Linked DNA regions of Homo sapiens: all the other regions are linked to region 1. The links come from fine-mapping of genetic effects on gene expression. A gene starts in region 1. Each other region holds a variant in brackets. All regions are shown on one strand. Distances are from middle to middle. Region 1 holds the start of PRR5 (proline rich 5). Region 2 has its middle 25 kb from the start of PRR5. Region 3 holds the start of LOC124905132 (a long non-coding RNA gene). Region 4 overlaps PRR5-ARHGAP8 (PRR5-ARHGAP8 readthrough).

Region 1 (7,588 bases):
GGTGTCCAGCCGGGGCTGAGCCAGGCTTAGGGATTGCAGGCCCTTCAGAAGGGTAGTTCTGAGGATATCAGGGTCCCCCTTGGTGACCAAGGGGATCCTCTACCAGCTGCCGACACCCCACTGGCCAGGGGGAGTTTGGAATGAGTTTGGGTCCTGGGGAGGAGAGGACGTGGTTGATGCCATCGGGCCTGGCACCTTCCTGGAGCAGGGGCCACTCTGGTGGCTTTGGGGATGTGTGAATGAGTCTGGAGCAGGGGTGGCTCTGGTGGCTTTGGGGTTGTGTGAATGAGTCTGGAGCAGAGGTGGCTCTGGTGGCTTTGGGGATGTGTGAATGAGTCTGGAGTGGGGGCCACTCTGGTGGCTTTGGGGATGTGTGACTGAGTCCCTTTGTCTCTCATTTCCTTAACAGAGGGACATTTCCCTTCCCTGGTCTCAGACACAAATGAGCCCTGCCCAGGGTACCCCGCCACAATACAATTGCTGGGTCCCCCAGCCCCCTCCTCAGACCCAGAAAGCCCCATAAGTGAGAGGAGGGCCCGGTGGGCACCTGGAGGCCTTGTGCCTGCTGGCAGGGGCAGTAGCCGGGTGGGAGCTGTCACGTGGGGCTCAGGCCCAGCAAGACTGTCACCTGATGCTTCAGGGCGGCCAGAATCCGGGTTTCTGTGTCAATCTCTCCGTTGTAAAATGTTGTAAGATGTTGGCCGCACGCAGTTTGGTTTATTTTCCTCCGACGCTGCAGGCCACACAGAGCACACTTAGGGGCTAGACTCCGCCCTTTGTCCCCCAGTTGCCCCCTGCTCTGAGGGTTTGTGACAGCTCTGTCCCCTTGTGGCCTCTGCCTGGGGTTTCTGGCCCCGGGGCAGCCCCGCAGCTGTGCCCTCTCTGCCTGTCACGGCCCAAACCCAGAGCACTAGCACCTTTGCTTGAGCCTCCACTGCCCTCCTGGCGCTGGGCTGTTGGGTGTAGACAGATTTTACACATCTGTGGCTGGGGCCAGGGAGAGGTTATAGCTAATTCCTTAACGCTGACTAGAGATGCCTTTTTTAAAGATCTCTTTAAAATTCCTCAGCCATCCCCACCTCCGGAATTTCTGGCTGGCCGCTTCTCCCAGATGCCTACAGCATTCCCAGCCCCCTGTTTCCCTCCTCCTGCCTCCCACCTCGGGCTGCCCATTTCTCTCTGATTTCTTATCCCAAGCAGTCAGGCCTCCCTCCCTCTCTGGAGCTGGCCCCTCCTGCCAGCCAGGCCCTGCCTGTGGTCAGCAAGCTTGGGACCAGGCTGTGCTGAGCCCACAAAGCCAGTCCTCTCCTGAGAGCCAGCCTCCGGCGTGGGAAACCATTTCATCCCATCCGGATCCCTGGCGGTTCTGCTTTGCTGCGTTTACACCAGTGGCCATGACGGAGATTCTCGCTCACATCTGTCCAGCCTGGGCACTTTTATGAGGCATTTTCACCAGTGGGGTCCAATGTAATCCCTTTATTCTTATGAGATAAATGTTCATCCATCCGTTAAACCAAATATCTATGAAGCACCCAGTCTGTGCTAGGCACGGGGACTGTAGCAGTGAACAAGTTGTTACGGTTCTTGCCCTCCTGGCTTATGGCATAGGATGGAAAAAAAGTCATCGGGTGACAACAGGACGCCCCCTGAGCCTAATTGAGAGTGAAGGCGGTCAGAGACAGGGGCAACTAACTTCTCTGAAAGACGTTCTAGGGCAGGGGAGGGACCCGCAGCTGGAGGGCAAGCAGGTCTCAAAGGCCCCTCCGAGGAGTCAAGGATCTGGGCTTTATCCTCTGTTTTCATTCTTTTCAGAGACAATTCAGTACATGCTTTAGTATTTTTATATGTTTTTTGTTGTTGTTTTTGTTTTTTTTTTTACAGCAGTAAGGTAGGAAATCCTTGTCTGGCCATGAAATTTGGTTTGGGATCTAAAAGATACAGTGTTCCCGTAAGTTTGAGAGCGTGGGCTAGGCACAGTAGTTCATGCCTGTAATCCTAACACTATGGGTGGCCAAAAGTGGGAGGACTCCTTGAGTCCAGAAGTTTGAGACCAGCCTGGGCAACATAGCAAGACCTTGTCTCTATTACAAAATTTTTTAAAAATTAGCCAGGGAGCCGGGCACAGTGGTTCATTCTTGTAATCCCAGCACTTTAGGAGGCCGAGGTGGGAGGATCACCTGAGGTCAGGAGTTTAAGACCAGCCTGGCCAACATGGTGAAACCCCATCTCTACTAATAAATAAAAAAATCAGCCAGGCGTGGTGGTAGGTGCCTATAATCTCAGCTACTCACTAGATTGAGGCAGGAGAATCACTTGAACCTGGGAGGCAGAGGTTAGCAGTGAGCCATGATTGCGCCATTGCACTCCACAGGCGACAAGAGCGAAACGCCATCACACACGCAAAAAATCAGCCAGGCATGGTGGCACATGCCTTGTAGTCCCAGCTATTCAGGAGGCTAACGTGGGAGGGTTGCTTGAACCCAGGAGGTAGAGGCTGCAGTGACCACAGTGGTGCCACTGCATTCAACCTGGGCCAAAAAGTGAGACTCTGTCTCAAAAAGAAAAGAAAACGTGTACAGCACTTGACAGTTAGTTTATAAAGCACCTGTTGCTGCCTGTGGGCCCCAAGCTGCCTGTGAGATGAACCGTTCCATCCCGCTTTACTGATGAGCAAGTTTGTCTGTTTATGTCTCTGTCTCCCAAAGACGATGGTATTTATGTCTGGAACACAGGAGGTACTCAGGAGACACTGGTTGATTTGCACTAAACAAAGACTCTTCATGAGGCTCTCTTACTTTTTATTTTATTTTATTATGATGATGATGATTTTTGAGACGGAGTTTTGCTGTTGTTGCCCAGGCTGGAGTGCAGTGGCGAGATCTCAGCTCTCTGCAACCTCTGCCTCCCAGGTTCAAGCGATTCTCCTGTCTCAGCCTCCTGAGTAGCTGGGATTACGGGCATGCACCACCACGCCCAGCTAATTTTGTATTTTTAATAGAGATGGGGTTTCTCCATGTTGGCCGGGCTGGTCTTGAACTCCTGACCTCAGGTGATCCTCCCACCTCGGCCTCCCAAAGTGCTGGGATTACAGGCATGAGCCATCACCTCTCTCTTACATTTTATATGGGGCCCTCCCAGCTCCTGGAGCTGTGGCTGTCACCCCCCATCTGATGGAGGGGTCAGGTGAGCCTTGTGGGAATCCCAGAAGCTGGGGACTGGGAAGGGCCCTGTTCAAGGGGCTGGACGCTCCCTGTGGTGAAGCCCAACTCTACCATTTGTTGATTGCACAATGTTGGCACAATGTTGGGCAAGTTATTTCACTCTGTGAGCCTCAATGTCCTCAACTGGAAAATGGGGAGAAGAATAATCTCTACCTCACGGAAGTAGTTCATGTTAGTTCATGTGAAATCAGACATCTAAAAGTGCTCTGCGAAGCAGGCAGGAAGCACCGGCTGTGCCCTGCCTTCACTGGGATCACTCTGCCCCCACCACAGGGACTTGGGAAACTGCTTGGTTTTACCATCCAAGAGACCTGGGGGTGGGAGATAAGGAGCAAACCCTCTACTTCTTCAAGCCCTCACTCCAGCAAATCCTCCAGGCAGCCAGGCAATGCTGAAGTCCCTGTCCAAGGGGGTCTAGGCTGAGCCCGGGTGGAGTGGGTTCTTGGGCCAAGGTGCCTGGAGGGGACTGAAGGCCTCTACCCAAAGTCCTCATGAGAACTGGGTGGGGGAGCCTGTGTTCAGGTGAGGGGTACGGAGGCACCTCTGTGGCACAGCCTTTGCGAGGAGGGCTGTGGAGGGAGACCTCCGGGGCCGGGGTCGAAGGACATCGTGTGGGCGCGACCGCAGTGCTGGGCGGGGGGCGGGCGCTTGGGCTTGGGCCCTGCGTCCTGTGCGTGTTGGTTTCCTGTGGGCACGTGGGGCCCTCGGAAGAGGGGAGGAGGGTGAGCACGTCCTCAGAGGGCAGACCCAGCGAGGCGTCGTGGCAGCTGCGGCCGCGGAGACGCCGGCTCCGCCTCTTGCACACGCCCCCTCGCCTGAGGCCCCGCCCCGCCCGCGATGCCCCCGCCCCCTTCCCCGCCCCGCCCCCCGGGGCGCCGAGACCCGCCCCTGGGCCCGCCCCCGGGTCCGCCCCCGGCCTCCGTTTGCGCCGGGTCTGTGCTGGCCGCGCGCCTGGCGCTCCACGCTGAGCCTCTCCGTGCAATGATTAACCCGGCGGGGCGGCCGGCGCGGGACCCGAGACGGAGGCGCGGGGCCGGGGCGGGACCCCGCAGGACCGCTCGGCTTCCTGCTCTCGCCGGAGTTTCCGCGTAGAGGGCGCATCGCCGGCCCGGGGCCCTTGGTGCGGCGTGGCGCAGGGCGCGGCGTGGGGCGCGCGTGGGCGCGGCGCAGGCGGCCCGGGTCACCATGAGGACTCTCCGCAGGTTGAAGTTCATGAGTTCGCCCAGCCTCAGTGACCTGGGCAAGAGAGAGCCGGCCGCCGCCGCGGACGAGCGGGGCACGCAGCAGCGCCGGGCCTGCGCCAACGCCACCTGGAACAGGTAAGGCCGCGCCCTCCCGGCCACCCGGAGGCCCTGGAGCCGGGGGAGGGGACCCCTGAGCCGTCCGCGGGCTAGGGGCCGCCCCGAGCCAGGAACGCTGCCGAAGGCGGCGCGGCGCTTCACAGTTTGCAAAGAACTTGCCCCGCCGGAGTGGTGCGGGCCTGGAGGAAAGTTCAGTGCAGCGTGGTTCCAGAACCCAGGGAAGGGAGCGAGGCCCGCCAGCGCCCGGGGCTGGCCCAGAAGCGCCCGGCGGGTGGGCGGCGGGGTGGGCCGGGAAGCCGCGTGCCCGCCTCCTACCCGGGGTCTTTCCACGTCTCCACTGCGGTGCTCGTGACAACCTGGGAGGCTAACGGAGCAGGAAGTATTTTTCCCATTTTGCGGCTGAGCACGGGAGCCTCGGGGCTCAGTGGGTGGGTCGCGCAGGCTTCCTGTGTCTCTTTAAGCTCCCTTCGGCTTTCCCTTGAGAGGCCCCCTGTCCTCCAGCTGTCAGCAGGGGGTGCGGCAGCTGCGAGGCATTCTTTAGAGGACTCTCCTCCAGGGGTCATTCCCAGACAAGCAGGGGCCTGGGAAGCCCCTTCTCCCAGCTTTGTTTGAGGAGCAAGTCCGGGATCTGGAAAAGAGACGGTTTATTTAGTGGAACTCCCCAGCGTCTCTGCTCCCTAGGAAAATGAGAGGCAGGAGAAAGTGAGGCAGGCTGTTCGCGGGAGGCAGTGGACACTGTTCGGGGGAGGCTGTGGACACTGTTCGGGGGAGGCTGTGGACGTTGCCCCTCTCGCGCCCACACCTGGCAGTAAAATCTTGCCAGATGCTCCACCGGCTGTGGTCTTGGCCACCGGGAACCCGGCTGTCACTTGGACACACGTTATTTTCAGTTCATTGAATGCATTGTGAGCGTCATGGTGGGCTCAGGGCTGCCAGCGAGACCCTCTTCAAACGTGGTCTCTTCTGTCTCTGAGTTGCAAACTGCTAGAGGGCTGTCACATGCCTGCCTCCGTTTCCCTCTCCGTCAGTGGGTATTCGCATTCCTCCCTGTGGGGAGGGCTGGTGTGGGAACAGTGAAGGAAGGACTCCTGTTGGGAAATCTCCCTGACCCAACGACTGCACAGTGTCTTAAGAGCTGTGTTCTCCACCAGGCACGGCGGCTCACACCTGTAATCCTAGCACTTTGGGAGGCCAAGATGGGAGGATTACTTGAGCCAGGGAAGTCGAGGCTGCCATGAGCCATGATGCCACCACTGCACTCCAGCCTCGGTGACAGAGCAAGACCCTATCTCAAAAAAAAAGAAGAGCAGTGTTCTCCTCCAGTATTGAGATGAAAGCCATCTCTCTGTCCTTGAATCTCTGCCGTGATTTAGAGGAAAGAGTTAAATAGACTTATTTCAAATCCCAACTCTGCCTCTTCCCTACTCTGTGGTCTTGAGCAAGTCAGGTCCTCAATTTCCTTATCCATAAAACGGGCAGATAACAGTGCCCACCTCATGGGGCTGTTGTAGGGATGAAATTTGAACATGCAAAATAAAGCCCTCAACACAGTGCTTAGCACATAGTAAGTCCTCTGTACCTCACAGCTCAACCCCAGACTCACGCAGTGGACCAGTGTCGGGGTGTCCCTGTAGGGATGGCATTTGGAGGGCTCCACAGGAATCAGTCAGTTCCTGAGCACCCACTGACAGCCACTTGGTGAGCTCCCTCCCACCCCCGAGGTGGGGCGTCCTGCTGCGGGTCCCCAGACAGGTGGGGGCACTGGCTGGTTGCTGGCTTAGACACTGCCCTCACCCAACCTTGGGTGACCCTGGAGTGGGCTCTGAGTCTCAAGTGTCTTCTCAGAGTTCAGGGAGGCCTCAGGGGGACTCTGCCTGAGCAACCCCCGCCCCACCAGATTTCACTCAGCAGCCTGGCAGATTGCAGAGAAATGCCAGCCCCTCCCCGCGGCACCTGCAGGGCTCCAGGTCTCCCAGCCCTTAGGCCTACATCAGCTCCCACCACCCCAGGCAGCAGGGGCACGGCCATTTCCTGCACTCCTCTTATGTGCCAGGCCCCAGGCCAGCCCCGTTCACTGCCCTTAACTGACTTTGCCACTCTCCTAGCCCAGCGAGGTATTACCAGCACCCCCCACCGAGAGATGCAGAAGGGCAGAGAGAGCACCCAGGAGACATGCCCAGCTCATCCATCACCTGCACAGGATGCAGCAGAGCCTGCGCCCCAGCTCTCCTCCCCAGCAGATGTGGGAGATGGAGCCAAGAGAAGGCAAACTGGCTTCACCAGCCAAGTCCCTGAGTGGAAACTGCAGGGAGCAGGGCACCCCTTCTGGTCCCTGTCTGCATGCTCCTGCTCCTAGCGGTGCTCCCTGCCAGGGCCCCCTAGGACAACAGATCTGTGCAGGGTCGGGGACAGGCGTGTCATTCTGCAGGGCCTGGCCGTGTACTCCTCATTATGAGTCCAAGACACACCCCCTTTTATCTGTGTGACTGTATTAGCTTCCCAGAGCTGCTGTAACAAAGACCACAAACTCGGTGGCCTAAAACAGCAGAAATTTGTTCCCTCACAGTTCTGGAGCCAGAAGCTTGAAGTCCAGGTGTCGCTCCCACCAGAGGCTCTAGGGGAGGAGCTTCTTGAAGCTTCTGGTGGCTCTTTGGCTTGTGGCTGCATCACTCCAATATGTACCTCCCCATGGCTTTCATTTCCACGTCCAAATCTCCCTCTCCTTTCTCTCTCTCTATTTTTTTTCCTTTCTTGAGACGGAGTTTCACTCTTGTCCAGGCTGGAGTGCAATGGTGTGATCTCAGCTCACTGCAGCTTCTGCCTCCTGGGTTCAAGCAATTCTCCTTCCTCAGCCTCTGGAGTAGCTGGGATTACAGGCGCCCACCACCACGCCCGGCTAATTTTTTGTACTTTTAGTAGAGACGGGGTTTTGCCATGTTGGTCAGGCTAGTCTCTAACTCCTGACCTCAGGTGATCTGCCCACCTCGGCCTCCCAAAGTGCTGGGATTACAGGTGTGAGCCACCGTGCCCAGCCTCTTTTTTGTTTTCTTTTGAGACGGAATCTTG
Region 2 (7,588 bases), 25 kb before region 1:
ATCAGTATCTTGCCCAAGGTCACCCACTGGTGAGGCATTTGGGTCTGATTTAGACGAACAGAAAGCCATCCGTTGTGGCCACTTCTTGGTGGATAGACGTGTGGCTCCCTACTTGATTATTCTCAATAACGGGGAGCTCACTACTCTCTAAGCCCCTATGACTGATAGTCTAGGGCTTGGGTAGGTGGCGGTGATGGTCCTTGGTAAATAGACCCCCTGTGGAAAGGGAAGACAGGGAGAAGATCCTGAGCGTGGCTTTGGCTTTGCTGTGATGGAGGGGCCAGGAGATCTACCTATGGCTGGGAGAGGGTGGGCCCACGTTCTGCTTCATGCCTTCCACAGGCCAAACCTGAGGCTGAGAGAGGAGTAAAATGCTCAACAAAGAGGACAGACAGTAGCTGCTCATAAAGCCTTGGGGTGGACAAATCCTCTTTCTAAGGGAAATTTTAAATATAAAACCAACATCGCCATATTGGACAGAGTCTGGAGAACGGGCTCTGATTCTGCCTGCAGCCTTTCTCCCTAAACATATTCATTTCCAGTCAATTTGTTCTGAGGTAGAAGTCCTGTTGCACAGTGTCATTGCAGCACTACACCTACAGCTCTACGGTTCTGTATCCTGCTTTTTTCTTGTTTTCTTTTCTTTTTTTTTTTTTAGACAGTGCCTTGCTCTTTTGCCCAGGCTGGAGTGCAGTGGCACAATCACCACATTCCGGGTAGCTGGGACCACAGGCACGCACCACCACACCCTGCCAGTGTTTTCGTTTGTTTTTTGTTTTTGGTTTTTTGGGTTTATTTTTATTTTTTATTTTTTGTGTGTGGAAATGAGGTTTTGCAGCCAGGCACGGTGGCTCATGCCTGTAACCCCAGCACTTTGGGAGGCCGAGATGGGTGGATCGCCTGAGGTCAAGAGTTCAAGACCAGGCCGGGTACGGTGGCTCACGCCTGTAATCCCAGCACTTTGGGAGGCTGAGGCGGGCGGATCACGAGGTCAGGAGATCGAGACCATCCTGGCTAACACGGTGAAACCCCGTCTCCACTAAAAATACAAAAATTAGCCGGGCGTGGTGGCAGGCGCCTGTAGTCCCAGCTACTAGGGAGGCTGAGGCAGGAGAATGGCGTGAACCCGGGAGGCGGAGGTTGCAGTGAGCCAAGACCGCCACTGCACTCCAGCCTGGGCGACAGAGAGAGACTCCGTCTAAAAAAAAAGAAAAAAAAATAGTTCAAGACCAGCCTGGCCAACATGGTGAAACCTAGTCTCTACTAGAAAATACAAAAATTAGCCGGGCATGGTGGCATACACCTGTAATCCCAGCTACTCAGGAGGGTGAGGCAGGAGAATTGCTTGAACCTGGGAGGCAGAGGTTGCAGTGAGCCGAGATCTCGCCACTGCACTCCAGCCCAGGTGACAGAGCAAGACGCTGTCTCAAAAAAAAAAAGAAAGAAAGAGGCTGGGCGCGGTGGCTCACGCCTGTAATCCCAGCACTTTGGGAGGCCGAGGCGGGTGGATCACGAGATCAGGAGATGGAGACCATCCTGGCTAACACGGTGAAACCCCTTCTCTACTAAAAATACAAAAAAAATTAGCCGGGCGTGGTGGCAGTCGCCTGTAGTCCCAGCTACTCAGGAGGCTGAGGCAGGAGAATGGCGTGAACCCGGGAGGCAGAGGTTGCCGTGAGCCGAGATCTCGTCACTGCACTCCAGCCCAGGTGACAGAGCAAGACGCTGTCTCAAAAAAAAAAGAAAAAAAAGAAAGAAAGAAATGGGGTTTTGCCACGTTGCCCAGGCTGGTTTTGAACTCCTAGGCTCAAACTGTCCTCCTGCCTTGGCCTCCCAAAGTGCTGGGATTACAGGCATGAGCCACCACGTCTGGCCTGTTCTGCTTTTTTCACTCGGTGTAATATCGTGAGCATCTTCCCTGTCCCTAAGCAGCCCAGGAGCTCGTGAGCAGTCATGCTGAGTTTTCAGCAGCTGCACAGTATCTGTCCCATGGCTGTTCTGTCATTTGTCTTGGAGCCCGCCTTTCAGTGGGGCCTCCACATGCACAATGACGTGGAAAGCTGTGTGACCCCAGGCAGGGCTCTCACCCTCCCTGCATCTCAGTTTCCTGCTCTGCTGTCAAATGGGAGCAAGAAGCAACCCACATCCTAGGGGTTCTGGGAGGAGTAAACGAGGAGATGGGATGTGAAGTGTCTGGCATGTGGTGGGGCTTAAAACTCGGTGGCTGTTGTTACTGTTGCTGTTGTTATTATTATTATTATTATTATTATTATTATTATTACTTAGGTCACATATCCTAATTAAATTGTGGATCCTTGCAGACAGGAGCCAGATTCTCTGCAGTCCTGTGCCCCACTCCTAGCCACGATCAGTCATGTTTATGATTTGATTCCTGATGTTCGGTTTCCCCCAAATAGAATGAGTCTCTGTGTGGGCGAGGTGCTGGGAGAACTTGATTGGCACAATCTCATTTTGTCCCCCATGAGCGGGGATCCTTAGCTCCATTGTAGAAACTGGCTCAGATGGGCAAGTTACTGAACCTGGGAAAGTGAAAAGAAAAAGAAAAATCAAAAACAAAAAAGAAGGCTGGGCGCAGTGGCTCATGTCAGTAACCCCAGCACTTTAGGAGGTCAAGGCGGGCAGATCACTTGGGCCCAGGAGTTTAAGCCAAACCTGGGCAACATAGCAAGACCCAGTCTCTATTAAAAGTACAAAAAAAATGAGTCAGCCGGGCATGGTGGCATGCACTTGTGGTCTTAGCTACTCGGGAGGCTGAGGTGGGAGGATCACCTGAGCCCGGGAGGTCAAGGCTGCAGTGAGCTGTGATTGCGCCACTGCTTTTCAGCCTGGGCAACACAGTGAGACCCTGTCTCAAAAAAAAAAAAAAAAAAAAAAAAAGAAAGAAAGAAAAGAGAAGAGAAGAAAAGAAAAGAAAAAAGAAAAAACTGGCTCAGAGAGTGTGATGGCCCTCCCCACAGTCACACAGCAGAAATGGAGGATCCAGGAATGCTTCCTAAAGGAGGCGGCAATGGCCCTGGGCCAGCAGGATGGGGGGTTCGACTGGGCCAACAGGCAGAGGGTTGGTGTTCTAGGCGGGGTGAAGAGGAGGAGGGGGGCTGTCCAAGGGGCATAGCAGTCGGAGCCCAGCACCCAACATAGGGCAGAGTGGAGTGTGGGTGGGGCTCAGGGGCGTGTGCTGAGCTTACCTGAAGTCGGCAGGGCAGGAATGAGCTGTCTGGGCTCCTGACCCCACCCTGTACCTTGGACCTGGCCAGTTCCTTCTGTCCGGGCAGGAAGGGGTGCTCTGTGGGCTTGGAGGATGCAGGCGCCTTCCTGGGGACTGCTCTGTGAGCAGTGATAAAATATTTATCAGCCAGCAGCTGGGCTTCCCTGCATAGGGTGCAGTCGGGGGCAGCTCCCACCCGAGCCTGCAGCCTGAGTTCTGCTGAGTCATGGGGGAGCCCAGTGAGCCGCCTGCCCTCAAGCTCCTGGGCCCCCTCTGCCCTTTGGCC[A/G]TGTGAACGCCTCCTAATGTGTAAGCCATTCGGCTGCCCCCAAGGCCAGGCATCCAGTGTGCTTAGTGCTGAGCAGGGTTTCAGAGCTCACCCCCAGGAGGGTGCAGACCTCAGCCAAGGTCGCAGAGCAGAGGAGACCCGTGGGCTGGGATTCCACCTGTGCCCACCCTGGCAGCATCCCACCTCCTGAGTCCTCTCGGCACCCAGCAAGGTAGGCACTCTTTGCGTCTGGTTTTAGCGGTGGGGACGCCTGGGCGTGGAGAGGGGGTGCGGCGTGTCGGGTCTCATAGCTTAGCGGCCGAGCAGAGGTTTGGCCCTGGTCTGTCTGAGTCCAAGACCCTGCTGTGTGCCCCTGCCCCGGAGGAGCCCCACTCCGTTTCAGCCCTGAATCAGGACTAGGGTGTCTGTCCGCCCTGATGTGACACAGTGCTGTGACTTTGGGTTTGTGCTTTCGATTTTTAGAGTAGCAGCAATAACAAAAAACAGTAGCAGATGGCTTCTTCCTACTGCTGCATGGGGTGGGACGAAGGGCAGGGGGTTCAGATTCTTTTGTTCACTCATTCATAAAAAACATTCTGGGTGCCCTGGCCACGGGCCAGCGCTCAAGGCTCCAGGGACCAGCGGGGGACATGTCAGATGGACCTTCCCTAGGGGAGCTTATGCCACGGTGAGGGGAGTCAGAGGGGTGGGCTCAGTGCCTGGGCCTGCTCACATGCTGTGTGACCTTGGACAGGTTGCTTCACCTCTCTGAGCCTCGGTCTCTAATTTGTGAATTCAGGATAAACTTGGCTTTTTCTCTGAGCAAGCAAGGATCACACCTGTGTCCTTATTCTTTCTCACGGCCTCACATCCACCAAAGCTTGTGGGCACGGATCATCCTTTGCACCGGCTCCAGTTTCCAGAGAGGCCCTGGCAGGCTTTGCATTGGCTCATCCAGGAAATAACCGGGAGCTGGTGCTGGGGGCCTCAAGGACCAGCTGGTTTTAAGGTGGAAGTTTTGCCTAAGGTGCTTAGAGTTCTGAAGGGAAGTGCTGGTACCCAGAGTCACGCGTGCAGCAGCTGTGAGAGGGAGCGGGCTGCATGCGGGCTCTTGATGGGAACCCTGTGGATGGTCGGGTCATCTCCAATGCCCAGTCCTGGCTGGGCCCTTGTTGCACCCGCTCACCACCTGCCCGGACATGCAGTCTGTTCCTGCTCACTCTCAGCCTTCTCTCCTCTGGGCCTTCCTCCTGCTGTTCCTATGCCTAGTCTGATTTTTTTTTGTCGTCCTTCACCTGCTGGGCTTCTGCTGGCTCTTTTTTTTTTTTTTTTTTGAGATGGAGTTTCACTCTTGTTCAGGCTGGAGTGCGATGGCGCAATCTCGGCTCACTGCAGCCTCTGCCTCCAGCAATTCTTCTGCCTCAGCCTCCCAAGTAGCTGGGATTACAGGCGCCCGCCACCACACCTGGCTTACTTTTGTATTTTTAGTGGAGATGGAGTTTCACCATGTTGGCCAGGCTGGTCTCGAACTCCCGACCTCAGGTGATCCACCCGCCTCTGCCCCCCAAAGTGCTGGGATCACAGGTGTGAGCCACCGCGCCCTGCCTGCTAGTTCTTTAAGCCGCTGCTGGAAGGCATCCTTCTCTAGAAAGTCTTCCTGGCTGCCTCCTGTTCACCGCAGGCCAGGCGGACCCACGGCCCCCTCAGTGCCATCTCACCCTGGGCTCTGCTCATGCCTTTGGGCCAGCGCTTGTCATACAGAGCTTCTCTGCCCTGTTCCCAGGTCTCCCCGACAGCCTGGGGCTGCTCTGTGTGATTCATCTCTGGGTCCCAGGGCTCAGCTGGGGGCTGGCACAGAGTGGGACCCCAGCAGCATTCGATGAATTGAGAGCACGAGTGAGCGACAGACATCAGGGCACCTGCGTTAGGGGACAGGAGGAAGCCTGGGATGATGGATGGTCAGCTGGACAGTGGAAAATTAAGATTTCTGGGGCCTTGAAAGAGACTGCCATGGGAGTCAGTGCCTTGGGGGGTCAGGAGCACTGGCCTCCAGGTCTGAGCCTCTCCCCTTGTAGCTGAGTGACCCTGAGTGACTCCCCACTCTCCTAGGCCTCAGGAGATACGTGCGGCCACCCCAGGTCCATTCTGCAAACGCAGCATTTATTCATGCGAGGGAGGCAGGCAGGAGCAGGCTTGTGTTCTTAGGATGCTCACAGTGGTGTCCCACAAACACACAGACAGAAAAAAGACCTAAATGAAATGTACCGAGATGGGGAGCAGTAATTTCTTTGGTGGTTTGTTTCTTCTTCCATCCTTTTTGTATTTTTCAAATTTTTAGAGTCCCTTCAGTGACTTCGAGCGTGCATTGAGAGCCCAGTAACACTGGGGGGCAACTGCCACAAAGACACAGCCTCAGCCAGGCGCAGTGACTCATGCCTGTAATCCCAGCACCTTGGGAGGCCAAGGCTTGTGGATCACCTGAGGTCAGGAGTTTGAGACCAGCCGGACCAACATGGAGAAACCCCATCTCTACTAAAAATACAAAAAAATTAGCTAGGCATTGTGGCGCATGCCTGTAATCCCGGCTACTCGGGAGGCTGAGGGAGGAGAAGCACTTGAACCCAGGAGGCGCGGTTGCAGTGAGCCGAGATCGCCCCATTGCACTCCAGCCTGGGCAACAAGAGCGAAACTCCATCTCAAAATAATAATAATAACAATAATAGTAAGACTCAGCCTCCCCGCTCTGGGACACTCAGTCTGATGGGGCAGGCTGGTCAGAAGACATAGAGCCATGGTGTGTTTGGAACTTTCACAGAGGGAAGCCTGGGGCTCGGGAAGCCCGGAAAAGATGCCGGCGCAGCCTGAGGGCTTGTACAGGTGCCACTGTGCCGAAGGGTGGCTACGAGGGAGGCAGGTGTATGGGTGAGGGTGAGTGCAGTGTGGCTGGAGGCTTAGGGAAAGGTGAGTAGGACGGCGAGAGACCCACGGGGAATGAGGGCTGGACCTCAGCCTGAGTGAGTGTGTTTGGTGGGGTGAGCAGTGATGTCAGTCCCTCCTGGGAGCTGCTGTGATTTGGGGCTTTCTACTTTATTCACTCAACAAACGTTTCTCAGAATGGAGGGTGCTCGGGGCCGTAGGGCACAGATACTGATGTGGCCCTTTAGGGTCACAGGGTCCAGGGTTCAAGTCCCAGCTCCACCACTATCCAGCTGTGCAACTTTTGACAGTTTGCTGTACCTCTCTGAGTCTCAGATACTTCATCTTTGAAATGGGCAGAAGAGCACCTGCCCCGTGGCTTCCTGTGAGGATGTATAGAAAATGCTGGTCCAGCTCCTGGAATGGCATGTCCCTCCCCCACCCTAAAGTGCACGTTTAGTGGAAGGAAAGGGGGGATGGGGAAGGATGGGGGATGGGGACAGAAGTGAGCATCTGAACCTAACAGGAGGGCTGGTCCCTGCCTGGTGGGGCAGCAAGGGGTCCTGCCACAGCCCAGCGAGGAGGTGGGCATCCCAGAGCCGCAGCAGTGGCAGCGCTGCCTCCATGGAGGTCCCACAGCAGGACTCGCCAGCCTTTGTCCTCCCCACCCTGGGTGCCCGACTTTCCCATGGAAGCTGCTGCATCTTCCCATGCCTGCCCACCACAGCAGGTGGGCTGGGACGTCTCTCTGAGCTGCAGATCCCCTGGTTGGGAGAGTAGGGGACGGACATCTGGCCTGAGACCCCCCCACACACACCAGGGCAGGTTCCTGGCTCCCTGCCAGAGCCTAGCTGCCTGCCTAGAGGCTCAGAGTCCCCAAGAACTCAAGGTGACACAGTGGTGGCAGTGTGTGACAGAGGAAGGAGCCAAGGTGGGATTTGAGAACCTGGGGCAGGGCAGGGCAGACCTGGGGCACAGGCTGCGGGACCCGGACAGAGCAGGGTCGGACTACAATGTGGTCTCCACATTCATGCATCCATCATGCAGCTCTCACTGGACCCTGGCATTCCAGGGCCACGATTGTCTGCCAGACTAGCACGGCAGCGGCTCTGCCTTCCTCACCCTACTGTGCTGCCAGTGGTTCCTGTGTCTCTTCTCTCTCGGCCCCTGCATCTGCAGAG
Region 3 (7,588 bases), 34 kb before region 1:
AGGTTTTCACTCAGTCCTTCAATGGCACCAAAGGCCCTCTTGGCCTAGGCTACACAGGGGCAGTGGTGGGAGGTACCCAGACGCCCCCATCAGAGAACTACATTTCATACAGGGCTTTAGATTCACAGAGCTCTTTTCTTAGCTGCAGGCTATAAACAAAGGCTCATTAACTATGTTTTAACGGCTCCATCCACCAATGGATAGGCAAATAAATGAAAGGATAAACATGTGAAATTAGCAAGTGCAATGGTCCCCATTGCAGGAGCAAGGAGCCTGGGGTCCCTCAAGAAGGGACTCAGCCTTAGTATTCAAGCTGCAGAGCCTGTGCCCTCTCCCTCCGATACATTGCCACGGTGCCCCCCTCGCCCTCAGGGTGTCAGGACGGTCCTGGCACGTGGTGGGTGCTGGCCACATCTGCTCACTCAGAGAAGAAGCGAAGGAAATGTGAGGTCAGGCCGCCACTGTGGCTGGGGCAGGGGCCTCACTTGAGCCTCCCAGCAGCTTCCCACAGTCTCACGTGACTGAGCAGCAGAAACACACACAGGCTGGGTTTCCTGCCAGGCCCCAGAGACATGCTCAGCTCTCACAGGGAGGAAGAGGCCAATGGGCTCGTGGTCACTGCCAGAGCTATGACAGGCACCCGCGTGCCTTTGAGGGGGTCCAGGTCTCAGCTGCCTTCTGGGTCACCTGAGGCACCTTCATGTTGACCCCAGTCCTGGGCCCCTCAGAGGAGAAGAGCTCAAAACCCTCTGAAAGCCAGCAGCATGGGCTCCAAGCCAGGGAGCCTGGGCTCAACCCTGGCTCTGTCAGGACTTGCTGTGTGGTCCTGGGCATGATGTATAACCTCTCTGAGCCTCAGTTTCCAATTCTGTAGAGTGGCAACAATAATATCTATCTGTTGGCTGGGCACGGTGGCTCACATCTGTAATCCCAGCACTTTGGGAGGCTGAGGCGGGCGGATCACGAGTTCAACAGATCAAGACCATCCTGGCCAACATGGTAAAACCCGTCTCTACTAAAAATACAAAAATTAGTTGGGCGTGGTGGTGCACACCTGTAGTCCCAGCTACTCGGGAGGCTGAGGCAGGAGAACCCCTTGAACTCAGGAGGCAGTCGTTGCAGTGAGCCGAGATCACGCTATTGCACTCCAGCCTGGTGACAGAGCGAGACTCCATCTCAATAATAATAATAATAATAATAATAATAATAATAATGATATCTATCTGTTACAGTCAGGGTCCCAGCAGAAGGCAGAGCTGACCAGGTGGTTCATGTTCACAGAGGCGTGGGCAGGTTAGGGAGAGCCAGAGGCCAGCAAAAGAGGGAAGCTGCTACCAGCCCTGGGGCTGCAGAAGGGAGGGAAGGAAATGGTGCTTCCCCCGGAAGCCAGTGGAGCTAAAGCCTGGCAGAGCATCCGGGAAAGAGCTGTGGTCAGCATGCAACCCGCAGGGACTGCAAGGGTCAGCAGAGGGCAAGAGGAGAAATGCCTCATTCTCTCCGGCTGATCTCCAGCAACTGCCTCCATGGGTCAAATGTAACCAGGTGGGGGATGCCGTCCACCCAGGTCAGCCTCAGGGAGCACAAAGTAGGCAGTGAATGGATCTGGGGAGCAGGGGGCGCCACAAATGACGTGGCCAGAACCACGCACCATGGGGTCATGTATTCATTTACTCACTGATTCTTTCAACAAATACCTATTAGCCACCTTCTAATACGTGCCAAAGACTGTTTCCAAACACCCAGAGATACTTTGGGGAAGAAAAGAGACAACTCTCCTCTCTCTCAGGGAATTCATGAATTTCTGAATAAACTACACCATAAAGAAATAACCAGCCGGGCGCCGTGGCTCACGCCTGCAATCCCAACATTTTGGGAGGCCGAGGTGGGAGGATCACCTGAGGTCAGGAGTTCAAGACCAGCCTAGCTAACATAGTGAAACCCTGTCTCCACTAAAAATACAAAAAATTAGCCAGATGTGGTGGCGCGCGCCTGTAATCCCAGCTGCTCGGGAGGCTGAGGCAGGAGAATCGCTTGAACCCAGGAGGCAGAGGTTGCAGTGAGCCAAGATTGTGCCACTGCACTCCAGGTTGGGCAACAAGAGTGAAACTCCATCAAAAAAAAAAAAAAAAAGAGAGAGAGGGAGAGAGAGAGAGAGAGAGAGAGAGAGAGAGAGAGAAAGAAATTTAATGAACATTTTTTAAAAAAAAAATCCAATTAGAAAATAGGCAAAAGACATGAACACACCTACCACTCATAGGATTTACAGATGGTAAATAAGCTCTCAAGATCGTTTTGAATCTTTAACATCAATAGTCGTTAGAGGAAGGCAAATTAAAACCATGAGATCTCACTACACACCTATCAGCATGGCAAAAATAAAACACAGGGACAAGACGAAATGCTGGTAGGGATGCAGAGAAACTGGATCACTCAAGCTTTGCTGCTGGGAAGGCAAAGTGGTACACTCTGGAAAACATTTTGGCAGTTTCTTAAAAATCTAAACATGCAACTCCCATACGACCCAGCAATTACACTCCTGGGCACTCTTCCCAGACAAATGAAAACTTATGTTCACACAAAAACCTGTACACAAATGTTTATAGCAGCTTTATTGGTAATAGCCCCAAACTGGCAATCAACCCAGATAGTCTTCGACAAGTGAATGGCTAAACAAATTATGATGCACCCATTCCATGGAATGCTGACCACTCCACAATAGCAAGGAACAAACTACTGAAACACAAAGCAACCTGGAAGAATCTTCAGGGATTTATGCTGAGTGAAAAAAGCAATCTCAAAAGGTAACATACTGTATGACTGCATTTATATAACATGCTTGAAATGATAAAATTACAGAAATGGAGAACAGATAAGTGCTTGCCAGGAGGGAGGAGGGAGGGAGATAAGCACATAAAAAGTCCACGGGGGGGTCCTTTGCTGATGGAATGTTCTGTACCTTGATGGCATCTATGTCAATATCCTGGTTGTGATATTGTAGTATAATTTTGCAAGATTTTACCAGTGGAGAAAACTGGGTCCAAGACATCTCTACTGTTTCTTATAGCTGCATGTGAATCTACAATTATCTCAAAATAAGAAAGTTTAGGCTGGGCGTGCTGCCTCACACCTGTAATCCCAGGATTTTGGGAGGCCCAGGCGGGTGGATCACCTGAGGTCAGGAGTTTGAGACCAGCCTGGCCAACATAGTGAAACCCTGTCTCTACTAAAAATACAAAAATTAGTCGGGCATGGTGGCAGGCACCTGTAGCCCCAGCTACTCAGGAGGCTGAAGCAGGAGAACCACTCGAAATCAGGAGGCAGAGGTTGCAATGAGCCAAGATGGCACCACTGCACTCCAGCCTGGGTAACAGAGCGAGACTCGGTCTCAAGAAAAAAAAAAAAGAAAGAAAGAAGGAAAGTTTAATTAGAAGTGGGGGAGGTCCTAGTGGTCACACACCAAGAGGCTGGATTAGATGACCTCAAAGGTCCCTCCAAGGCCAGGACATCCCTCTTGGCAGCACGGGGCTCAGAACAGCTCCACCTCCTTCTGGCACCTCTTGGGCCGTTTCCAGCCCCACCCCAGTACTCGATCCAGGCACTGTCTGCCCAGTCTAGATGCCACCCAGACACTTTAGGCCCCTCTGTCCAGATGCCCTCTCCTCCCTCTAGGATGCCCCATCCTGCAGTTCAGGCAGAGCTGCTCACTCCCAGGGCCCTATGGACCCCATTAGAGTACCTGGGGTCTGGCCGGGATGCTTGCTGTCCTG[A/G]AATCTGGTCACCAGGAAGGCCGGCCATCTGATCTGCCTCATGTCAACACTGTTTCTGGGGGATGAGTGGCTTAGCGTCAAACAAGCACAATGATGGAAGGGGAAAAAAAAAGCTTTACAACTGAATATGGACACAAATATTTGCACAATTGCATTCTAAAACATTAAAACAATCACTACACCAAAACACAATAACCATAACCATCACCGCCCGAATGCCCACAGCCTGGCCTCTGGTACAGGACTTGCGGCTTCTACCAGGCACTGACTGTCAATCCTTTCGGGGATTCCTGGGACAGACACCACTGCTCCCCGCCCACTGCCCCCACCACAGCCACGTACCAACGGAGAGGTACTTAAACAGGGTGAGGCTGTTTAAGTGAAGAGTGAAAAGAAGCCCTTTTCGAGACACTGGGGTGTGGGATGTGGGTTGTGGGGTGCAGGATGTGGGGTGCTGGATGTTTCCACCAGGGCAGTTCTTCTCAAACTTTACTGAACTCTGGAACCACCCAGAAGGCTTGTTAAAATAGGGGGCCCAACCCCGAGTTTTGCTTCTGTAGGTCCGGGGTGGGGCCAGGGACTCTGCACTAACGGAGGCCACACTTTGAGAACCACAGCCCTGGGCTGTTTTTGGTGCCAGGCCCATTCGTCTTCCCCTCCCTCCCCGCTCCGCCCGCGGCTGGACCCCGATCCCCGGGACAGGGACTGAGTCTGACCGTCTGATTTGTCCTCCCGGCTTCTAGCGCCCCGCTCAGGTCGGGGCTTGGGGAGGGGGCGCTCTCTGGACGTTTGCGGCCCGCCGAGGGGTGGGGTGAGGGCGTCACGGGCCGATCCGGGCCGCCGGGTGACCCGGGACGCCCCCTGCCCCGGCGGGCGCCGCCCACAGCCTGCGCAGTGCTCAGGGGCGGAGGCCGGGAGGGGGCCCAAGCGCCAGCCCCCCAGCTCCGGCGGACCCGGGTGGGCGTGCCCGCGGACCCGCTTGCCGCACTTAGGCGAGTCTCCCCTGCAGCGCCCCGAGTCCCTGGGGGCTGCGGCGGCTGCGGGCGCCCCCGCGCGGGCCCGAGGGGCGGGACGCGGCGGAGCGGGGCGGGGCGGGGCCTCCGCGGCCCCCTCCCCCGGCCCCGGGCTCCGGCTCCGGCTCCGGCTCTGGCTCTGCGCGGTGGCAGCGGCGGCGGCGGCGCGGGGACCGAGGTGAGCGGCGGCTACGGGTCCGGAGGCCCGGCCGGAGAGGGGACCGGGTGGCTGGGGTTGGGGGGCGGCACGCGCGACCCTGCGGAAGGGGGGGCCCCGGGGCGGTGCCGGCGGAGCGGCGCGCGCGTGTGTGTGCGCGCGTAGGTGCGCGCGCGCGCGACGCCGACTGCGGGGCCCTAGGGTGGGGTAGGGGTCGGACGGAATCTGCGGGGCAGGGGCGGCCCCCTTGGGTGAAGGTCCAGCCTCTCCCACCCCAGCCTCCCGGGACCTCCCGAGCTCGTTCTCTCCCAGCCTCTCTCGCTCGCCCCCCGCCCCGCCCCCTTCCCTCTATCTCTGAGTTTGTCCGCGTCTCTGTGGGTGGGTCTCCGTCCAGCCGCCCCGTGTCCCCATCTCCTTCCCCGACACCGCTCTCTCCCCATGGCAGCTCTCCCCTCCCTCGCCATTGCTCCCCCTAATAGGGCAAACAAAGATGGTCGAGGATGGGGGACCCTTCCTTTCTGAGCCCTGTCCTGGCTCAGCCTGTGGCCCCCACCGCTCTGGCCTCTGGCCTGGGCCTCCAGCCACTTCCTGGCTGGTAGCTGGCCCTGCAGAGTGGGTGGGGGCAGGTGGAGGCAGCAGGCAGACCCCGGGACAGAGACTCCAGGGCTGGAGCGCTTAGTGGTCTGTAAGGTCAGAACCTGGGGAGACACCCTCACCATCCCTTGGCAGGTGGGGATACTGGGCAGGTCTGCCTGGCCACGGGTCTGCGCCTCTGACCTAATCAGATGGATTTCTAGACCCTGTTCCCATAAGCAGAGCCTGACGCTTTCTAAGATTTTTTCCACCAGAGCCAAGGTAGAAGGCTGGGGGAGGGTCCCATGTCCAAAGGTCACAAGATGTGGTCCCAGCGACTGGGTCACTTCCTCCAAGCGGCCTCCACTTCCCTACCAGTGGCATGGGTGGGAGTGACATCTGTGGACAGAGGCCATGAGGACCGTGTGGGGTGGCCTAGCTGCAAGGTGATGAGTGATGCTCTTGGTGGGAGAGTGGTGAGTCCCATTCCCTGGACTGGATCTGGAGGCGGGAGGGCGCCTCCCTGTGGCCCCTCCGGCCTTCTGCACTCGGCGCAGCCTCCAGAATCCTGGGGGTAAGCTGGGGCTCTCCAAGTGAGGTCCTGGACCCCCAGATCATCCTCCTTGATGACAGTGCTTGATAAAATGTCAATTCCTGGTCCCTGTCCTGAGCTGGTAAGGGGGCACCAGGAATCTGCATTTTGTAAGTCCCCCATCGTCATTCTAATGCACATTCAGGTGTGAGCACCGCTTGGTGTTAACATCGGATGAGGGGGACAAAGTCATCTACCTTCCTCCGGCTGGCGGACAGCGAAGAGGACCAAGAAGGGCCCATCCTGGCGTCTACAACTTTGCTGTGTCCCTGGGCAAGCCGCTCCCCTCTTGGAGCCCAAGTCCCCCAGCAGTCAGAGGAGGTTATGGCCTCCCCAGGGACCTTTCCTGCCAAACAGTCTGGGATTCTGAGCCCTTTGTTTAAATCGTGGGGCGGGGATTGCTGTGAAGTCCGGCAGGCCTGAGTCAGGATCCCAGCTCCAGCACTGGCTGGCTGTGTGGCCCTGGACAAGTCACTTTGCTTCTCTGGTCCTTGGGTTACTCACCTGAAAACTGGCGATCATCATATTACCCCCACTCATCCACCCACAGGGGCAGTCAGGGAGGTCCAAAGAAGTGTGGTACCCCACGTCGCAAGCACACCATGGTGTGGGTGGATCGGCCGTGAGAAGGGCTGGCACTTCTGTGTCTTGGCTGTTTTAACTGGGTGGCGATGGGGATACTTGCATGGACTTAATTCCTCACCGGCAGGGAAAGCAGCCTGTGCAGAAACATTTGTGAGCTAATGGGTTTTTTGTTTCTAAGGGATGGCTTAAAAGGCCTGGGGACGGTAACACAGAACTGCCTGGCAGAGGCGGGCAGCGTGGTGTGGTGCCAGCTTTCCTGCTCACGCCCAGTAAGTCAGGGGCGCAGACACCAGGAGGGGTGGGTGACGAGAAGGAAAGAGGAACACCAGCCCCTCTCTGGGTGCCGCAAGTTGTGGACATTTGTGGATGTGAACAAAACCGTCTTCTGGGACATGTGTGAGAAGAACAGAGCTCTCGTGAGACTCCCATAGAGGAGGGGAGTCATTCATTCATTCATTCATTTACTCATTCATGAAGACCTTCCCCAGGCCCCACAGATGGCAAGGAGGGCCCCTCAAGATAGAAAAACCCAGGCAGAAACAGACAGGCTACTGATGCTGTGTGAATGTGGTGCTATCCGGGTCAGATGGCAGTGTGGGTCACCCACAGGCTCAAACAGCAGGGTCAGGGCATCCTGCTTCAAGACCCTCATCCTGAAGCCCAGAGGGGGGCCGCAGGGGGCCAGCGCTGAACAGGACCAGCCATCTCTTAGATTAGAGGCAAGAAATGTGAATCAGAATCTTGGGCCATCATGAAGACATGGTTTAGCTGAACAAAGAGGTGGCTTCTTGGTGACAAGACAGCCCTCATTTTTTATTTTAACCACATCTCTCTTTTTTCTTATGTCTTAAAATTGAATCTTGCTGGGGAGCACGTGGTGGCACGGGGGCTTGGAAGTCTG
Region 4 (7,588 bases), 42 kb after region 1:
ACGGCTTCTTAACATTTGCTGTTCTGTCTTCCACACCCTAAGGTTTGTTAAACGAGTGAAATCGGTGGTTAATTAGTTAGTGGTTGGTCTACCATCGGCATCACCGGGGTGTCCAGTGGGGTGGATTCCTCTGCATCTCCAGGGCTGGGGTTCTAGAAACTGCTTTATCGTTGTTGTCTTTTGTGTGCTTGTTGTAAGTTTTGTGCAGGATTCTCGTGAACGCTCTACCCCTTACCTCTCAAATGCACAATCTCAGGCCCTGGCCCCATCTGCTGACCCTAAATCTGCATTTCAGCCCCGCCTTGGGGTCCGTGGGCCTGCCGGGACATGTGAGCCTCACCTGCACTGTGACAGCGTCTGGGGTGGAGGTGGCACTTAGGAAAACCCAGGGTGGGTTACGATAGGCTTCCCAGTGACCCTGACTGCACCCCTGCTGAGAGCTCAGATTTGTTTGGGCGTCCGTGTGTGTGTGTGTGTGTGTGTGTGTAAGTGGGTAGGTGTGTGTGTCTGCACGCACGCACAAGTGTTTGGGGGTGTGTGTGTGCGCGCGCGCGAGAGTGGATGGGTGGGTGTGTGTGTGTGTGTGTGTGTGTGTGTGTGCAAGTATACACCACACAGCAGCTAAGCCCTGGTAGGAGGTCTCAGAGGCGGGTCCATTGGAGTGCTGATGCCCACCCCGCGTGCCCTCTCAAGCACCCACTTTGGACCCCGTGATATTCATCTCCAGAAGGAATAGCTCCGTTTCAGGAAAGTGCTGCTGGGTGGGCTGTGGCCCAGGAATCACGAGGTAGGGGGCAAACATGCTCTCTGGATGTGCTGGCCCTGGGAAGAGGAAGAGGAGGAGTCCCAAGGTGGAGATGCCTGCAGCCGAAGGCCCTCCCAGAGAAGGGAAGACTCCAGAAGAAGAGAGAGGGACTGGGAAGCGTGTAGGCCAAAGGGGTGCCCACAATAAGCGTGGGCCCATTTGTCATTTTCCATCTGACCATGAAAGTAATAGCTTACAGCCAGGCACGGTGGCTCACACCTGTGGACCTAGCACTTTGAGAGGGCAAGGTGGGTGGATTGCTTGAGCTCAGGAGTTGGAAACCAGCCTGGACAACAGGGTGAAACTCTGTCTCTATAAAAAATATTTTAAAAATTAGCCAAGTGTGGTGGCACGTGCCTGTAGTCCCAATACTCTGGAGGCCGATGTGGGAGGATCACTTGAGTCTGGGAGGTTGAGGCTGCAGTGAGTCGTGATCACGCCACTGCACTGCAGCCTGGCCAACCGAGTGAGACCCTGTCCCTGCCACAAAAAAAAAAGTTGGCCTATAATTGAGACTTCTGGGTCTATACCCAAAAGAATTGGAAGCAGGATCTCAAAGAGATATTTGCACACCCATGTTCATAGCAGCATGCTTCACAACCGCCAAAAGGTAGAAACAACAAAGTGCCCATCGTTAGCTGAATGGATATGCAACGTAGTCATCCATACAAGGGAATATTCTTCAGCCTCGGAAAAGAATGAAGTCCAAATGATAATAATAATGAAGTCCTGATACATGCTACAACATGAATAAGACTTAAAAACCTGATGTGAGGCCGGGCGCAGTGGTTCATGCCTGTAATCCCAGCACTTTGGGAGGCAGAGGCGGGCAGATCACGAGGTCAGCAGATCGAGACCATCCTGGCTAACACGGTGAAACCCCGTCTCTACTAAAAATACAAAAAATTAGCTGGGCGTGGTGGCGGGCACCTGTAGTCCCAGCTACTCGGGAGGCTGAGGCAGGAGAATGGCGTGAACCCGGGAGGCGGAGCTTGCAGTGAGCAGAGATCGTGCCACTGCACTCCAGCCTGGGTGACAGAGCGAGACTCCGTCTCAGAAAAAAAAAAAAAAAAAAAAAACCTGATGTGAGGTGAAAGAAGCCAGCCAGGAAACACCACATACTGGATGATTCCATTCCGAGATGTTCAGAATAGGCAAATCCACGGGGACAGAAAGTAGAGTGGTGGTCGCCAGACCCTGCGGGAGGGGGTTTAAGGAGTCATCGATGGGATTCGAGTTTAGTTTTGCAAGATAAATAGAGTTCTGGAGATCGGCTGCTCAGCGACATGAATGTGACTTAACACTACTCAACTGCCCACTTTATGGTGTGTATTTTACCACAGTAAACACACAAGGAAGGGGAGAGGAGGGGAGGGGAGGGGAGCCAAGGAGAGAGGGAAGGGAGGGAAGGAAGCTTCCACCTTTTGGCTGTTGTGAAGAATGTTGCTATGAACACGGGTGTACAAATATGTCTTTGAGATCCTGCTTCCAATTCTTTTAGGTATAGACCCAGAAGCCTTTTTTTTTTTTTTTTTTTTTTTTTTTTTTTTTTTTTTTGAGACGGAGTCTCACTCTGTCGCCCAGGCTGCTGGAGTGCAGTCTCACAATCTCGGCTCACTGCAGCTTCCACCTCCCGGTTTCAAATAATTCTCCTGCCTCAGCCTCCCAGGTAGCTGGGATTACAGGCGTGCACCACTACACCCAGCTAATTTTTGTATTTTTAGTAGAGACAGGGTTTCACCATGTTGGCCAGGATGGTCTCAATCTCTTGACCTCATGATCCACCTGCCTGGGCCTCCCAAAGTGCTGGTTTCACAGGCGTGAGCCACCATGCCCAGCCAACCCAGAAGTCTTAATTATAGGCCAACTTTGTTTTTTGTTTTTTGTTTTTGCAGTGGGGACAGGGTCTCCCTCTGTTGCCCAGGCTACAATGCAGTGGCATAATCACAATCATGTCTCACTGCAGCCTCAACCTCCCGACTCAAGTGATCCTCCCACCTCAGCCTCCAGAGTAGTTGGGACTACAGACACATGCCACCACACCTGGCTAATTTTTTTTTAATAAGGAAGGGAGGGAGGGAGGAAGGAAGGAAAGGAAGGAAGGGAGGGACGAAGGGAGGAAGGAGAAAGAAAGGAAAGAAAGGAAAGATAGAGAAGGAAGGAAAGGAGAGAGGAAAGGACTCCTTCCTTCCTTGCAGTCCCTGTAGCTGCTTTCCTCAGGGAGCGTGAACTGATCGTCTTGGCCCCTCTACTGAGACTGGAGTGGAGGGACACAGCACTCCATCGGGGGACCGTGGTCCCCAACTCCAGGACTGTCCAGCAGTAAAGCAGGCAGTAGCCTCAGAAACGCTGGGAGGAGTAGGGAGGATGCCAAGGCACAGGAGCCTCTGCCAGGGATGCAACTGACACAGACTGGAGATGAGCACCTAAGAATTATGATGCTCTTTCCGGTCCCCATGTAGCTGGGGGTGGCGATATGACCAGCCCTGGCCAGTGAGTTCTAAGTGGAAGTGATGCGGGGTGCTCTAGATCTGGAGGATTTCATTGCCAGACACAGGCCCCTCCAGGACTGTCCTTCCCTCTGCCACGGTGGTTGGCAGTGTCCCAGGCAAGCCTGCTCCAGCAGGTAGACGTGTGGCCTGGATAAGAAGGCCGGCTACGGTGGTGGAGGCCCCTGTGATTGGGAGATGCTTGTCGCTCGGCACAACCAGGTTTGACTTGACGCTACACTCCTTCTTCCCAGTACCCTAGAATCACGTAGTCCTTGAGTGGGGAGAAGGCCAGCATGGGATATTTCATTGTATATATTTATGTATGTCATACACCCCTCATGGGCAGAGCCAGGACCTCCAGGATCTGATCGTAAATTGGGCACTGTGTGATATTGGGCAGGTCGCCCTGTCCTCAGTTTCCCGATCTATAGCCAGGATCTCCCCAGCTATGAAATCAGTGACCAGCACTGTTTCTTTGCCTGTCTGTGCACCGTGGACTCACATGCAGAGCAGGGCTGTTAGATTGTAAACTCCAGACACCAGACATCTCTGACAAAGGAGCTCTGTGCAGATGACAAGCATCGGGCAGACGCGTACTTAATGGTTTTTGACCTGAAGGTGATAATGGCTTAATAATAAACGGATGGTTTTACCCCCAAGAACCCTTCTTCTCATTGACTGATGTGTTTGCAGAGAGCTCAGAACTGCTCTCACAGGCTGTAAAAAGCTATAAAAATGTAAACTATCATTGACATCATCTGCAAGAGGAATTTCTCATACTGACATTCCTCTTCTCACGATGGGGATTCATGTCAGCCTGTG[C/T]TTGGTAGGGGAAGAGGCCAGGGGAGTGTAAAATATGAGGATGCAGGATCAGGCGGGCTCTGATTTGCAAGCAGCCGAGGCAGATGCCAATGATCATGCAGAGAAGGAGTTTATTGAAGAATGTTGCGAGCTCCTACAGCTGTGATGAGGTGGGTGAGCCAAGCCCACTTCCAGGAACGGTGTCCCAAATCACCCCACAGGACAGTGGGCCTGATGGGAAACCGGCAGCATTGCAGCCACCGAACGGGGAAGGCACCCATCATATGGGGATGCTCCCACAGCACAGAGAGGTGCCCATCATATGGAGATGCTCCCACTGCACAGATACTCCCATTGCACAGATACTCCCACAGCACAGAGAGGTGCCCATCATATGGGGATGCTCCCACTGCACAGATACTCCCATTGCACAGATACTCCCACCGCACAGAGAGGCACCCATGATATGGGGATGCTCCCACTGCACAGATGCTCCCACGGCACAGAAAGGCACCCATCATATGGGGATGCTCCCACTGCACAGATACTCCCATTGCACAGATACTCCCACCGCACAGAGAGGCACCCATCATATGGGGATGCTCCCACTGCACAGATGCTCCCACGGCACAGAGAGGCACCCATCATATGGGGATGCTCCCACTGCACAGATACTCCCATTGCACAGATACTCCCACCGCACAGAGAGGCACCCATCATATGGGGATGCTCCCACTGCACAGATGCTCCCACGGCACAGAGAGGCACCCATCATATGGGGATGATCCCACTGCACAGATACTCCCATTGCACAGATGCTCCCACCACACAGAGAGGCGCCCATCATATGGGGATGCTCCCACTGCACAGATACTCCCATTGCACAGATGCTCCCACCGCACAGAGAGGCACCCATGATATGGGGATGCTCCCACTGCACAGATGCTCCCACCACACAGAGAGGCGCCCTTCATATGGGGATGATCCCACTGCACAGATGCTCCCACTGCACAGATGATCTCATTGCACAGATGCTCCCACTGACAGAGAGGCACCCATCATATGGGGATGCTCCCACTGCACAGATGCTCCCACGGCACAGAGAGGCGCCCATCATATGGGGATGCTCCCACTGCACAGATACTCCCGTTGCACAGATGCTCCCACCGCACAGAGAGGCGCCCATCATATGGGGATGATCCCACTGCACAGATACTCCCACCATGCAGAGAGGCTCCCATGATATGGGGATGCTCCCACTGCACAAATGTTCCCACTGCACAGATACTCCCACCACACAGAGAGGCGCCCATCATATGGGGATGATCCCACGGCACAGATGATCCCATTGCACAGATGCTACCACTGCACAGAGAGGCACCCATCATGTGGGGATACTCTTGCTGCACAGATGCTCCCCACACACAGAGATGCCCCAGTTACGCTGGACCAAACCCAACTGCCACCAGCGCCAATACCCATTGTGTTCCAGGCACTTCACTTTGTAGCCACTGTGTCCTCCCTCACCACCCAAGCTGGGCATCGCTGGGTGATGAATTCTAGGGCAGCCTCCTCTCTCAGGGTGGACATCACAATGGTGCAGTCTGTCACTGTCTGGTCCCTGGTGGCAAAGGGACCGGGTAAACCCGTTGTCAGGCCACCTTGGGGCTGTGAGATGTCTGTAAGGTCGGTAGTGCCAGTATGGTAAAGGCATTTGAGGGGTGGGCAGGTCGGTGCACAAGATCAGCGTCCACCCTGCTGTCAACCAGGGCAGCAGGAGCATGGCCACCTCAGCTGCAAATCAGGAGGGTTTCCATTATTGGACCCAAAGATCGCAGAAAACCCAGTGGAGGCAGTTTGCAGGCGGTACTAACCACACAATGCATTTGCTCTGACACAGGACCAGGGCACGTAGTAGACGGGCAGGGGTCAGGGAACCTGCCTGGGGTTCTGGGCCAGGCTACATAGGGATAAAGCAAGCCCCTTAACCGACTGGATCCCAGGATCCTGGCCCATAAAGGGAGAGGGTTGGAAGAAGATCTTCCACATCCCTTTTGCCCTAACCTGGCAGTCATACACCCAAACTGGGGGGTAGTGTTGGCTTTGTGGTTTTAATAAGGTTAAAAGCAGGCCAAGTCTTAGCTCAAGAAGCTGGCAGGCTGAGTTAATTCCGGAGAAAACAAACGGGAAGCCCAAGACCTTGGACATAGATCTTTTATTCCCTCCTCCTTGAAATTCTCCATCCCCAAGCGCTTATTAATGTGGAATTTGCTGCTTGGGGGAGAACCAACTCTCCGACTTCAGAAACATTTGTAAGAGCAAATTTAATAAAGCTAAGAATAATACCATTCAGATGTAATTCCTTTATTTTGCATGATTATTCCTTCTTTTCTATCGCAAGGCATTTGAAATGCAAGGAGTTATTGAGATAGCAACAAAAGGAAATGGCTAACTGGTTGATTACTGATTAAACAGTGCTTGGGAAAAAACAGAAGAAAGAACTTGAAAGGGGAACCAGCCTGGGTTGTACAGTTCTTTTATATTTCTTTTTCCTTTGATTATGAATGGCAGAACACACCTGCATTCTTTGCCACACAATCATTCGGTATTGTTGCTTTATTGTATGTATGTTAATATCGCTAAGCTATGGGGTGAAATTTGTATGAGATTTTCACAAAACACAAATGCAAGGAGGGTGGTATTTCCCCTGACATCTCTTAATACTGTGAAATTATTCTGCCAGCCGTAGGCCGACTGCGGGGGGAGTTTCCCTTACTCCCGTCCAAAGTCGCTTTTTAAAACAGAAACCCTGCAAATTGCCCTTCTTTCATGAGGGCCGGATCTTACATTGGTAATATAAAAGATGTTTACATTCCACAAAAGGAAAAGAGAACCCTGCACCCAGCGCCAGATGAAAACGATCCAGTGTGTGTACGTTGCTGGAATAAGACATTGTGACTTCCTTGTCATGTTTTGAGAGCAATGAAGTGTTACCACTTCAAGTCCTTCGAGAGCCGGGAAAGTATAAAATAATAACACACAAATTGTGTTGTGTTAGTTGAACAGGCCACAGGCTAGGATGGCTACGAATTCTTTGCTCAGGAATAAGGCAGCTGCTTGAGTGTTGAGAGAATGAAATGGAGGTTGTCCGTTCATGTTGTCAGAGATGTTTGAACCAAAACGACTCCATCTTGAATAGGGGCTGGGTAGAATCAGGCTGGGACCTACTGGGCTGCATTCCCAGGAGGTTAGGCATTCTTAGTCACAGGATGAGATAGGAGGTCAGCACAAGCTACAGATCACAAAGACCTTGCTGATAAGATAGCATGCAGGGCCGGGCATGGTGGCTCACAGCTGTAATCCCAGCACTTTAACAAGCCGACACGGGTGGATCACCTGAAGTCAGGAGTTCGAGAGCAGCCTGGCCAACATGGTGAAACCCCGTCTCTACTAAAAATACAAAAATTAGCTGGGTGTGGTGGCAGCGCGC

Evidence for each region. PIP is the estimated chance that this variant, and not a neighbour inherited with it, causes the effect. A credible set is the group of variants that fine-mapping cannot tell apart.
Region 2: its variant is the best candidate, but not a certain one, in a credible set for the expression of PRR5 in whole blood (TOPMed, PIP 0.62).
Region 3: its variant is the best candidate, but not a certain one, in a credible set for the expression of PRR5 in whole blood (INTERVAL, PIP 0.88).
Region 4: its variant is the best candidate, but not a certain one, in a credible set for the expression of PRR5 in whole blood (TOPMed, PIP 0.70).

Annotation. Positions count from the first base shown.
Region 1 is chr22:44,698,069-44,705,656 of GRCh38, forward strand. It overlaps PRR5 (proline rich 5), which reads left to right and starts at 4,136. Exons shown (of 8, transcript NM_181333.4): 1 at 4,136-4,540. The coding sequence starts at 4,407. PRR5-ARHGAP8 (PRR5-ARHGAP8 readthrough) reads left to right here and starts at 4,136. Exons shown (of 15, transcript NM_181334.6): 1 at 4,136-4,540. The coding sequence starts at 4,407. RefSeq lists an enhancer at 1,221-1,761 and a silencer at 4,010-4,419.
Region 2 is chr22:44,673,518-44,681,105 of GRCh38, forward strand. It overlaps a transcript of PRR5 not described here. Among named protein-coding and RNA genes, the nearest start is that of PRR5, 25 kb to the right of the region's middle. RefSeq lists an enhancer at 5,889-6,785. The variant A/G (reference allele first, on the strand shown) is at 3,513.
Region 3 is chr22:44,663,848-44,671,435 of GRCh38, forward strand. It overlaps LOC124905132 (a long non-coding RNA gene), which reads right to left and starts at 4,736. Exons shown (of 3, transcript XR_007068127.1): 1 at 4,484-4,736; 2 at 3,737-3,822; 3 at 1-1,152. It also overlaps a transcript of PRR5 not described here. The variant A/G (reference allele first, on the strand shown) is at 3,768.
Region 4 is chr22:44,740,023-44,747,610 of GRCh38, forward strand. The region is part of intron 4 of PRR5-ARHGAP8 (PRR5-ARHGAP8 readthrough); the gene reads left to right. Among named protein-coding and RNA genes, the nearest start is that of ARHGAP8, 8.8 kb to the right of the region's middle. The variant C/T (reference allele first, on the strand shown) is at 4,120.